Linked DNA regions of Homo sapiens. The protein of the gene in region 1 interacts with the protein of each later gene in a biochemical or structural test. Each region holds a gene or a part of one and is shown in the gene's direction. Other genes may lie near its edges.

Region 1 (3,749 bases):
ACCATCCCCGGCCTATTTTTATATTTTTAGTAGACAGGGTTTCACTGTGTTGGCCAGGTTTGTCTCGAACTCCTGGCCTCAGGTGATCTGCCTGCCTCGGCCTCCCAAAGTGCTGGGATTACTAGCGTGAGCTACTGCGCCTGGCCCCATGCCTCCAAGTTTCAACCAGTTCTCCAGCTCAGCCTCCCAAATAGCTGGGATTACAAGCATGTGCCACAATGCCCAGCTAATTTTTGTATTTTTAGCAGAGAGAGGGCTTCATCCTGTTGGCCAGTCTGGTCTCGAACTCCTGACCTCAAGTGATCTCCCCACCTTGGCTTCCCAAAGTGCTGGGGTTACAGGTGTGAACCACCGCACCTGGCCTTGTTTTTGTTTGTGTCACCCAGGTTGATCTGCCAGGAATAAAGATGGCCACCCAACTTTTTTTTTTTTCCAGCGACAGAGTCTTGCTTTCTGTGCCCCAGGCTGGACTGCAGTGGTGTGATTATAGTTCAGTGCAGTCCCGACCTCCTGGGCTCAGGCAATCCTCCCACCTCAGCCTCCTGAGTAGCTGGGACTATGGGCATGCACCACCACTCACAGCTTTTTGTTGGAGAGATAGGTTTTATGTTGCCCAGGCTGGTCTTGAAATCCTGGTGTCAAGTGATCCTCCTGCCTCAGTCTTCCAATGAGTGACTATGAGTTATGTGTCTGTAATACGTATCCATGTCCCCTTCCCAGGCTCCCAGGGCACCAGAGTGGAGGTTCCTGTTGTAGAAACTCAGATCCTCTCCTCATGTTGGGCAGAATCAAGGAGCAGCCAGGCCCAGAGCCAGGGCACTGGTCTCCTGCAGGTCAGGTACTGCCTGTGGCTTGATCCAACGGTCCTATCCCACCCAGGAGGAGAGAGGGTCACTTTTCCCTTGGCTGCCCCCATCGCACTAAAGCAGCTGGCACTGAACCAGCCTCCATGCAGTCCCATGCAGTGCCACCCAAGGGTCCCCAGTAGACAATGGTGGGCCAGTTGTCAGGGGCTTCCTCCTGCTGCAGGGCTGAGACCCTGGGAGGTCCCAACCCAGGCAAATTGAACGCCAGGCTAATTTGAAGACCCAACTCCCAGCCCTCCCCTTCACCGGAGGACAGAGCTCTAGCTGGCCTGGGCCCCCACCTGATAGCAGCCTCCAACGTCTGGGGTGTCTGATAATGCTTGGCGGGGAGCTCGTGCCAAGTCCCGCCATCAGCACGGTTGTTGCTGTTTACTGGGGAGGGGGAGGGCTGTGGAGCCTCAATCAGGGGGACAGGGGGTCCCACAGCTTCTTCCCAGAATACCCTTTCTGCCTTTTCCAGGAAAGTTAACTGAGGGAAGACCCCCAAGTCTCTCCTTCTTTGGAGACCCAATGTCTGTTTTTACCCAGCACCTGGACCCTCAAACCCTGAACCCCCCAACCCTTGATATTTGACTTGGCTTTGGACACAGGGTTAGTCTTTAACCCCAGCCCCAGACAGGCCAACGTGAAGTTTGTGCCCCAGAAACAGTGCCCCCCCGCCGCCTTGCCTTGCTTTGCCTTATCAGAGGCTGCAGCCAATCAGCTAAGGACAGAGAGGAGCCCTCGAAGGGGCTATCACAGCCTCAGAGTTCACGAGGCAGCCGAGGAAGAGGAGGCTTGAGGCCCAGGGTGGGCACCAGCCAGCCATGGCCACAGCCGAGACCGCCTTGCCCTCCATCAGCACACTGACCGCCCTGGGCCCCTTCCCGGACACACAGGATGACTTCCTCAAGGTGGGGCCTAGAAGGTGGGGTCTAGGTGGGCTGGCTGGAATCCAGGGCCACAGTCACAGATCTTGGGGTCCAGACCTGCATCTTGACCTGAAATCAAGAGACTTAACCAGGACTGAGGTACGCTCAGTCCAGGAGAGGAGATCTCAGCTTAGTCTGGCAGGGGGTGAGGAGGGTGGTCTAGGGGTTTGAGGTTCTAAGTGTGATCTATTTCGGTAATAGAAAACGAAGGTAGCCTGGGCAACATGGTGAAACCCTATCTCTACAAAAAATACCAAAAACATTAGGCCAGGCATGGGGGCGTGTGCCTGTAGTCCCAGGTACTCCGTAGGCTGATGCAGGAGGATCATTAGAGCCCAGGAGATTAAGGATACAGTGAGCTGCACCACTGCACTCCAGCCTGGGCAAAAGAGTAAGACCCTATCTCAAGAAAAAAAAAAAAAAAAAGGAACGAGATCTAGGCTCACAGACAATCTTCCAGATATCAGCGGGAAATGATGAGTGTGTCTGGGGGACATCCAAAATTTCGGAATTAATCTTGTTTTGGGAGACAGGGAAGGAGAGGGATGTTCTGGGGGAAAACTAAGTCAAGGCTGGCATCCTCTCCCCCGTCCCCTGCCAGTTTTCCATCTCCAGCAGCTCTGCTACCCCTTCCCCCATCCCCGAGTGTGGTTCCAGATAGTGGAAGTCTTATCTCCTGTCTCCAGCCAGACCTGATCGGTTTCTGTCCCTGGAGCTGGGGGGGGAGCGGGGAGAGGGGCGGTTAGAGGGGCAGTGTTGGGGAAGTGGGACAGACAGACAGGCAAACAAGACCCCTTTCCAAAGCCTCTGCGTCAGAGTGTCCAGCCCGCGATGTCCCTGGGCAGGGCACCCCAGTGTCCACCGAACCTCGAGCTGCCTGCTCCCTCCCGCAGTGGTGGCGCTCCGAAGAGGCGCAGGACATGGGCCCGGGTCCTCCTGACCCCACGGAGCCGCCCCTCCACGTGAAGTCTGAGGACCAGCCCGGGGAGGAAGAGGACGATGAGAGGGGCGCGGACGCCACCTGGGACCTGGATCTCCTCCTCACCAACTTCTCGGGCCCGGAGCCCGGTGGCGCGCCCCAGACCTGCGCTCTGGCGCCCAGCGAGGCCTCCGGGGCGCAATATCCGCCGCCGCCCGAGACTCTGGGCGCATATGCTGGCGGCCCGGGGCTGGTGGCTGGGCTTTTGGGTTCGGAGGATCACTCGGGTTGGGTGCGCCCTGCCCTGCGAGCCCGGGCTCCCGACGCCTTCGTGGGCCCAGCCCTGGCTCCAGCCCCGGCCCCCGAGCCCAAGGCGCTGGCGCTGCAACCGGTGTACCCGGGGCCCGGCGCCGGCTCCTCGGGTGGCTACTTCCCGCGGACCGGGCTTTCAGTGCCTGCGGCGTCGGGCGCCCCCTACGGGCTACTGTCCGGGTACCCCGCGATGTACCCGGCGCCTCAGTACCAAGGGCACTTCCAGCTCTTCCGCGGGCTCCAGGGACCCGCGCCCGGTCCCGCCACGTCCCCCTCCTTCCTGAGTTGTTTGGGACCCGGGACGGTGGGCACTGGACTCGGGGGGACTGCAGAGGATCCAGGTGTGATAGCCGAGACCGCGCCATCCAAGCGAGGCCGACGTTCGTGGGCGCGCAAGAGGCAGGCAGCGCACACGTGCGCGCACCCGGGTTGCGGCAAGAGCTACACCAAGAGCTCCCACCTGAAGGCGCATCTGCGCACGCACACAGGTGAGGGGGCGGGGCCCCGGACATGAGAAAGGGCGCGGCGCCCGCTGTAGTTACAGGGGAAGAAGGGTTGCAGAGGGCGGGACTTGGACTTGGCTGGCCTCTGAGAGTGAGTGCCTCCTTAAATTTTGTGCCCTAGGGGCCTCACTTTGTTCATCCTAGTCCCAGCCCAGGCTGAGTAAAGGGGTGTGGCCAGATGCAGGGGACCCGGGGACATGACTGGGCAGACAGTGGCGCTTATGGCTTCCTTGTCCCC
Region 2 (3,649 bases), on another chromosome or scaffold:
AAATGTGGGCCCTAGTTAATCACTAGCTCCATGTTCAGATGGGAAGAAACTAGGACTAAATCATCCAGGAAATGCATTTGGAAGAGTTTAGCATGATCCAGAGTTGAAGATTTATAATTCATTGTGCTGTAGAGGGAGAGTAATAATATTGTTGCAGAGCCCAAAGCAAGGGAGGAAATAATAAAATAAATAAAATATATGGTGTAAAATTGAATTTGAGGCCTTGGATACTAAAAGTGAGGAACTGGGAGAAGTGAAGAATGAAATAATATGCTACATAATCCAACTCTCCCGAGGATATGTTTCTCTAGAATTCTGAAAAGGTGCAAAATTATTTCCATTTGCCAATGATCCATGCCTAATTGCTTCTGGAGAGTAAAAGAGCAAGAAATGTATCTGAGAGAGAGAGAGGAAGACATACTTGTACAATGACACTTTAGAGGAGCTCCGCTTTCTGGCTTCAGAGCAGTGTAACTCACAGGTGAGGTAAAGCAGGATGGTGAGAAGAGGAAAGGGGCTTTGGGGGAACCCACCTCTTCAGCTTAGTGAAGTCCTATAATGGTTTCTATTGGAACCCCAGCCCAGATACTTACCAGCGATGGGGCTTTGGGCAAAGGACTTAACCTTTTAAGACTCCATTTTGCATCTGTAAAATGGGGATATTAAAAGATTTCCTTGGTAAGTAAAAATAGGGCTCGCGGAGCAGGTGGCACATAGCACCCACCATCTGAGCCGTCACTGCTCACAGGGCATTAGGTTGTTGGAATGACATTCAGCAGCAGGCTGTGACCTGTGAACCCAAACTCTCCTAACTCCTCCCCTTTGCCAGCTCCTCCACCTTCAGCACAACACAGCAGCCACTCTCGTGCATGGGCAGGGCCTGGGCACTTTACAAAGCAGACTACTCGGGCCCTGCCACCCAGATTCTCACACATAAAAACCAAGGTGGAATGGAGAGTCCAAGGACAGTTGGTGGATGCTTGTGTAAAAGTGCTGGGAAACTTGCCTCTGGCTGCCCAGCTGTGAAGCGTGAGCCTTGCTTCTTGCCCCACATCCACTCCTAGTCATTCAATCCTGGTTCCCTGCTTTGCCAGGAGCCTTCACAGACGCTGTAGAATGAGAGGGTGAGTTGCTTGAGGGGTAGCACAGATATTCCTGCCTAATAAATATGTTAAATCAAACAGGCTCATTAGAAGCCGGAGGCTAATGGCCGACTTACAATAAAATGCCGAGTCTCTCCTCCCCCAGGAAGTCTTCCTTGACTCTCCAAATTTTCACTATTCCCTTCCACTTATGAGTCCTCGAACCACCGCCACACAGTCCATTGCTTAGTAGTGGTGTGCTTGCCTACCTGTTTCATGGGAATGAGTATTTCTTGAAGGCAAGCGTCATGTAATTTTCTTCTATGATAAGGATATTTAAGGTGTTTATTGGACCCACTAACCATTGGTTGCCAAGTGAAGAGATGGGCTTCAGACTGTGATGAGTGATAAAAGAGTTCTGCCTACTGTGGAACCTGCTGGAACTCATCACTTGTGCTGAAAGTGCAACATCCCCACCACACACACACACACACACACACACACACACACACACACACACACACACATACACACACTGAGAAGGAGGAGGAGGTATGAGTGTCCTACCATAGAGATGGCCTCAGTGGTTACCTTACCTGTGTTCACTCAAGAGCTAAAATGTTCTCCCCAACGTCATCTCTCATCTTTGGGTATTTAAATATCTAAAATATGTTTTGGGGATGCCCTGGTAGAAATTTCTACACAGCTGTGCTCAAAAGGAGAAAAATCTAGTTTGGGTTTCTGTTCAAGACTAACACCGCTGGGTTTTTCAACTGCACAGATGGAATTGCAGTAAAAGTCTCTCTGTTTCTTTTCTACAGCCATCTGAGGGATCCGTGTTCTTTCATGAAATCATTAATATTCTTAAAATACAGATGGTTCCCGTTTCCAGAGACATTGGTCCCGGGGTCTGTGAAATTGTGTTTATTTTCATTTTGATGCCACCATTTCTCAGGCAAAGGTTCCAACTGCTCTCCAAAACTTTAAAGAGTGCTCTGTCAGGATACGTAGTGAGGCAGCTAAGCACCTCCCTGGAGTGCTAAGTGGTTCAGGCAGCGCCAGATGCCATGGAGCCTGATGAGTGTTCTAGGGGAACCATGTGGAAGGGAGCTCTCCCAGAGAGAAAGAGAAGGGAAAGAAAGAGGGACAAGGGGTGAGGGAGGCTGCCTAGGCTCTCAGGGAGCCTCTACCTTCCTGCAGTCCTTGCTAACAACGTCTTCTCCTCTGCAGACCCCACACTGTGGACACAGGAGCATGTGAGGCAATGGCTGGAGTGGGCCATAAAGGAGTACAGCTTGATGGAGATCGACACATCCTTTTTCCAGAACATGGATGGCAAGGAACTGTGTAAAATGAACAAGGAGGACTTCCTCCGCGCCACCACCCTCTACAACACGGAAGTGCTGTTGTCACACCTCAGTTACCTCAGGGAAAGTAAGTGCCGCCCAAGTACCCAGGGCTGGGAGGAAGCTTGGCATGGAGCCAACCCAGGGAGAGGAAGTCAGTGCTGCCCGTTCGTGTTGGGCAGATGCCGCCGGAGCAGCATCGTGGGGCCTGTAGTGTTGCCAAGGTCACGTGGGCTCCTACAGACCCTGTGAGGGGCAGACCCAATCCTGAAGTGTCAAAGGAAGTAAGACGAGAAATGGAGAAAAGTAGAGAGCTGTGACCTGGAGGGGTCTGGCAGAGGCTGGTTACACTCTTCCCATGAGACCGCCTTTCCAGAAACTATTCCAATTTGAAAATAGATAGAGATGGGTGGTGCCCTGGCTGGTGTTTTCCTAAGTGATTATTTAAAATTCCTCCAGGAAACTCTAGATTCAAGGCTTTTGGATTTAAGGTGTTGAAAATAATTTACATATTAGCTTCCTCTTAATCTTGGGATACTCTGGCACACCCTAACCCCATTTGACAGGGCTGCTATCTGCACACTTCCTTGATAAGGAAGAGCAGCCAAAGGTGCAGGTGTGTTAGGATCCATTGGAGGCTTTCTTCTGGTACAGCCAAGAAAAGGAAAAGAGCTTTGGAAAGGGCGAGCTTAAGAAAGAAAGCAGGCAGTTGTCCAAGAGATTTATCTAGTATGAGGTACTCTAGCACCAAGCGCCCATCAGTCTGATATGAATTTCATTTGATATGAAATATACACAGAGCAGAAGAATGGAATTATTTTAGTCCTGCTGGTAACCTCAGCCTGAGTGCCCTGCTGGGAATCCAGGCCAGGTGGTATATCAATATCAGTGCTACCCCTAAGTATGGAAGGATTGTCCTGGGGCCTGAAAAGATGGTGCTAGGATCACAGGAACACAGGTTTGGGCTCACACTACGTAAGAGCATTCTAGCAGCCCTGTGCAAAGACAGGGCAGCCTTGAGATGCTATTTGTTGTGAATGGCCAAGGCAGCTGCGAGTCTTGCAGGAGTTTAGCTTTGGGCAGGGGCTTGATGATTTTAAGCCCCCTTCGCAAGTTCAGATCCTTAGACAGCAACTCTGGGACCTGCTTTTCCTGGACTGGCTGGCTCTGGGTTGGTGAGCTCTGTTTGCTCGCCATCGTTCTGTGGACCTTTAACTCCCC
Region 3 (3,649 bases), on another chromosome or scaffold:
ACTGCAGCCTCAACCTCCTGGGCTCAGGTGATTCTCCCACCTCAGCCTCCTGAGTACCTGGGACTACAGGCACGAACCACCACACCTGGTTAATTTTTTGTATTATCAGTAGAGGCAGGGTTTTGCAGTGTTGCCCAGGCTGGTCTCGAACTCCTGGGCTCTCTGCCTGCCTCAGCCTCCCAAAGTGCAGGGCTTACAAGTGTGAGCCACCACACTTGGCCCACACTGACTCTTACTTGAAATATTTTGAGACTAATAAATTTTTGTTTTCTTAAATAAAATATAATAGACTTTTTTTGATCAAAAGATTAATTGGGCCAGGTGCAGTGGCTTGCGTCCGTAATCCCAGCACTTGGGAATTCCAGGTGGGAGGTTCATTTGAGCCCAGGATTTGGAGACCAGCTTGGGCAACATGATGAGACCCTGTCTCAAAACAAAACAAAACAAAAAAATACATCAGTTGTGGTGGCATGCACGTGTAGTCCCAGCTACTTGGCTGAGGCAGGGTCCTTGGAGGATCACTTGAGCCTAGGAGGTCGAGGCTGCGGTGAACTGTGTTGGCACCATTGCACTCCAGCCTGGGCAACAGAGCGAGACCTTGTCTCAAAACAAAACGAAACAAAACAAAACAAAAAACAAAAACAAAAAAAAACCAGATTAATTGTTTATGACATAGAAATTAAAATTTCTTAATTAGGAGTCAGTGTTTTTTTTGTTTTTTGTTTTTTGTTTTTTTTTTTTGAGATGGAGTCTCGCTCTTCTGCCCAAGCTGGAGTGCAGTGGTGTGACCTCGGCCTCCCAAGTTGAAGTGATTCTTCTACCCCAGCCTCTTGAGTAGCTGGGATTACAGGCACCCGCCACCACGCTCTGCTAATTTTTGTTATTTTTAGTAGAGCTGGGGTTTCACCATGTTGGCCAGGCTGGGCTTGAACTCCTGACCTCAGGTGATCCGCCAGCCTCAGCCTCCCAAAGTACTGGGATTACAGGCATGAGCCACTGTGCCTGGCCTACATGCATTTTCATGTTTGGTAATTTGGTAGGATGATTTGGAAAAAAAATCTAATCAGAATTAAATATTTTATAGTTTATTAAAAATTGGACTGAGACTGGGGGCTGTGGCTCACACCTGTAATCCCAGCACCTTGGGAGACCGAGGCCGGTGGATCACCTGAGGTCAGGAGTTCGAGACCAGCCTGGCCAATGTGGTGAAACTTCTGCTCTACTAAAAATGCAAAAATTAGCCGGGTGTGGTGGCACATGACTGTAGTCCCAGCTACTCAGGAGACTGAGGCAGGAGAATCACTCAAACCTGGGAGGTGGAGGTTGTAGTGAGCTGAGATCGGGCCATTGCACTCCAGCCTAGGCTACAGAGCGAAAGTGTCTCAAAAAATAAATACATAAATAGAGACAGGGTCTTACTGTGTTGCCCAGACTGGTCTCAAATTTCTGGACTCAAAGTAGTCCTCTAACCTCGTCCTCCCAAAGTACTGGGATTACAGTCATGAGCCACTGCACCCGGCCTATATTCACTGTAGTTATTAAAAATATAGGCCGGGCATGGTGTCTCACGCCTGTAATCCCAGCACTTTGGGAGGCCAAGGCGGGCAGATCACCTGAGGTCGGGAGTTTGAGACCAGCCTGGCCAACATGGTGCAACCCCGTCTCTACCAAAAATACAAAAATTAGCCAGGCGTGGTGGCGTGCGCCTGTAATCCCAGCTACCCAGGAGGCTGAGGCAGGAGAATCGCTGGAACCCGGTGGGCAGAGGCTGCAAGTGAGCCGAGATTACGCCACTGCACTCCAGCCTAGGTGACAGAGCAAGACTCTCTCAAAAAAAAAAAAATAAATATTTACCTGAGGCCAGGTGTAGTGGCTCACGCCTATAATCCCAGCACTTTGGGAGACCGAGGCAGGCGGATCATCTGAGGTTGGGAGTTCGAGACCAGCCTGGCCAACATGGAGAAACCCCATCTCTACTAAAAATACAAAATTAGCCAGATGTGGTGACGCATGCCTGTAATCCCAGGTACTCGGTAGGCTAAGGGAGGAGAATTGCTTGAACCCGGGAGGCGGAGGTTGTGCTGAGCTGAGATCGCGCCATTTTACTTCAGCCTGGGCAACAAGATCAAAACTCGGTTTAAAAAAAAGAAAAAATATATATATATTTACATCTATATATTTACATATATGTTTACATATATATGTATATTTACCTGAAATGTTGATTTGGTTCCATCTGAACAGCCTTTTTCAAGGACATTGTCTTTTTCAGCTATAGAGTTTGGCATTGTTTAGTTAATCTGTAAAATACAGATTGTAGTTATTATTTTTGAGACAGTCTCACTGGGTCACCCAGGCTGGAGTGCGTGGCACGCTCTTGGCTTGCTGCAACCTCTGTCTCCTGGGTTCAAGCAATTTTCCTGCCTCAGCCTCCTGAGTAGCTGGAATTACAGGTGTGTGCCACTCTGCCTGGGTAGTTTTTGTATTTTTTTAGTAGAGATGGAGTTTGGCCATGTTGGCCAGGCTCGTCTCAAACTCCTGACCTCAAGTGGTCCACCCGCCGCGGCCTCCCAAAGTTCTGAGATTATGGGTGTGATCCTCCGTGCACAGCCGGTCATTATTTTTTTATGTTGCTTTACCGTGTACAAAAAAAGTGCAGTACATTATATGACTCCTTTAGGAAACCTGTGCTTATTAAAGATTATGAAGTTACCTTGCGGATAAGTACAATGTATTTTGTCAGTTTTGTAAGATACACTTGAAGTATTTTTTTTTTTCTCGTTTGAGACGGAGTCTCGCTTTGTCACCCAGGCTTGAGTGCAGTGGCGCACTTTCGGCTCACTGCAACCTCCGCCTCCCGGATTCAAGCCATTCTCCTGCCTCAGCCTCCCAAGCAGCTGGGATTATAGGCATGCACCACCATGCCTGGCTCATTTTTGTATTTTTAGTAGAGACGGGGTTTCACTATGTTGGCCAGGCTGGTCTTGAACTCCTGACCTCAAGTGATCTGTCCACCTTGCCCTCCTAAAGTGCTGGGATTACAGGCATGAGTCACTGCATCCGGCCAGAGTTTTAATTTTTAATTTTTGTGGGTACATAGCAGGTCTATTTCAAAGTTTATTTTATTTTATATTTTTTGAGAGTGAGTCTCGCTCTGTCACCCAGGCTGGAGTGCACCCAGGCTGGAGTGCGGTGGCACGATCGCGATCTGGGTTCGCTACAGCCTGCGCCTCCTGGGTTCAAGCGATTCTCCTCCCTCAGCCGCCTGAGTAGCTGGGACTACAGGCAAGTGCCACCATGCACGGCTAGTTTTTGTATTTTTAGTAGAGACGGGGTTTCACTGCTTTAGTCAGGTTGGTCTTGATCTCCTGACCTCGTGATTCGCCCGCCTCGGCCTCCCAAAGTGCTGGGATTCCAGGTGTGAGCCACCACCGCGCCTGGCCCTTGAATACCGTTTATTAAAAATTTACGGGGCTGGGCGCGGTGGCTCACACCTGTAATCCCAGCACTTTGGGAGGCCGAGGCAGGCGAATCACGAGGTCAGGAGATCGAGACCATCCTGACTAACATGGTGAAACCCCGTCTCTACTAAAAATACAAAAAATTAGCCAGGCGTGGTGGTGGGCGCCTGTAGTCCCAGCTACTCGGG

Evidence for each region.
Region 2: the proteins of KLF1 (region 1) and FLI1 form a complex in vitro, tested with the Homo sapiens proteins (one study listed by BioGRID).
Region 3: the proteins of KLF1 (region 1) and SMARCC1 form a complex in vitro, tested with the Homo sapiens proteins (one study listed by BioGRID).

Annotation. Positions count from the first base shown.
Region 1 is NC_000019.10:12,885,064-12,888,812, reverse strand, and holds the start of KLF1 (Krueppel-like factor 1), read left to right. Parts: upstream 1-1,611; 5' UTR 1,612-1,672; coding exon 1,673-1,759; intron 1,760-2,670; coding exon 2,671-3,496; intron 3,497-3,749. UniProt on the Homo sapiens protein: Transcription regulator of erythrocyte development that probably serves as a general switch factor during erythropoiesis. Is a dual regulator of fetal-to-adult globin switching.
Region 2 is NC_000011.10:128,770,470-128,774,118, forward strand, and holds part of FLI1 (Friend leukemia integration 1 transcription factor), read left to right. Parts: intron 1-2,312; coding exon 2,313-2,516; intron 2,517-3,649. UniProt on the Homo sapiens protein: Sequence-specific transcriptional activator. Recognizes the DNA sequence 5'-C[CA]GGAAGT-3'.
Region 3 is NC_000003.12:47,775,283-47,778,931, reverse strand, and holds part of SMARCC1 (SWI/SNF complex subunit SMARCC1), read left to right. Parts: intron 1-3,649. UniProt on the Homo sapiens protein: Involved in transcriptional activation and repression of select genes by chromatin remodeling (alteration of DNA-nucleosome topology).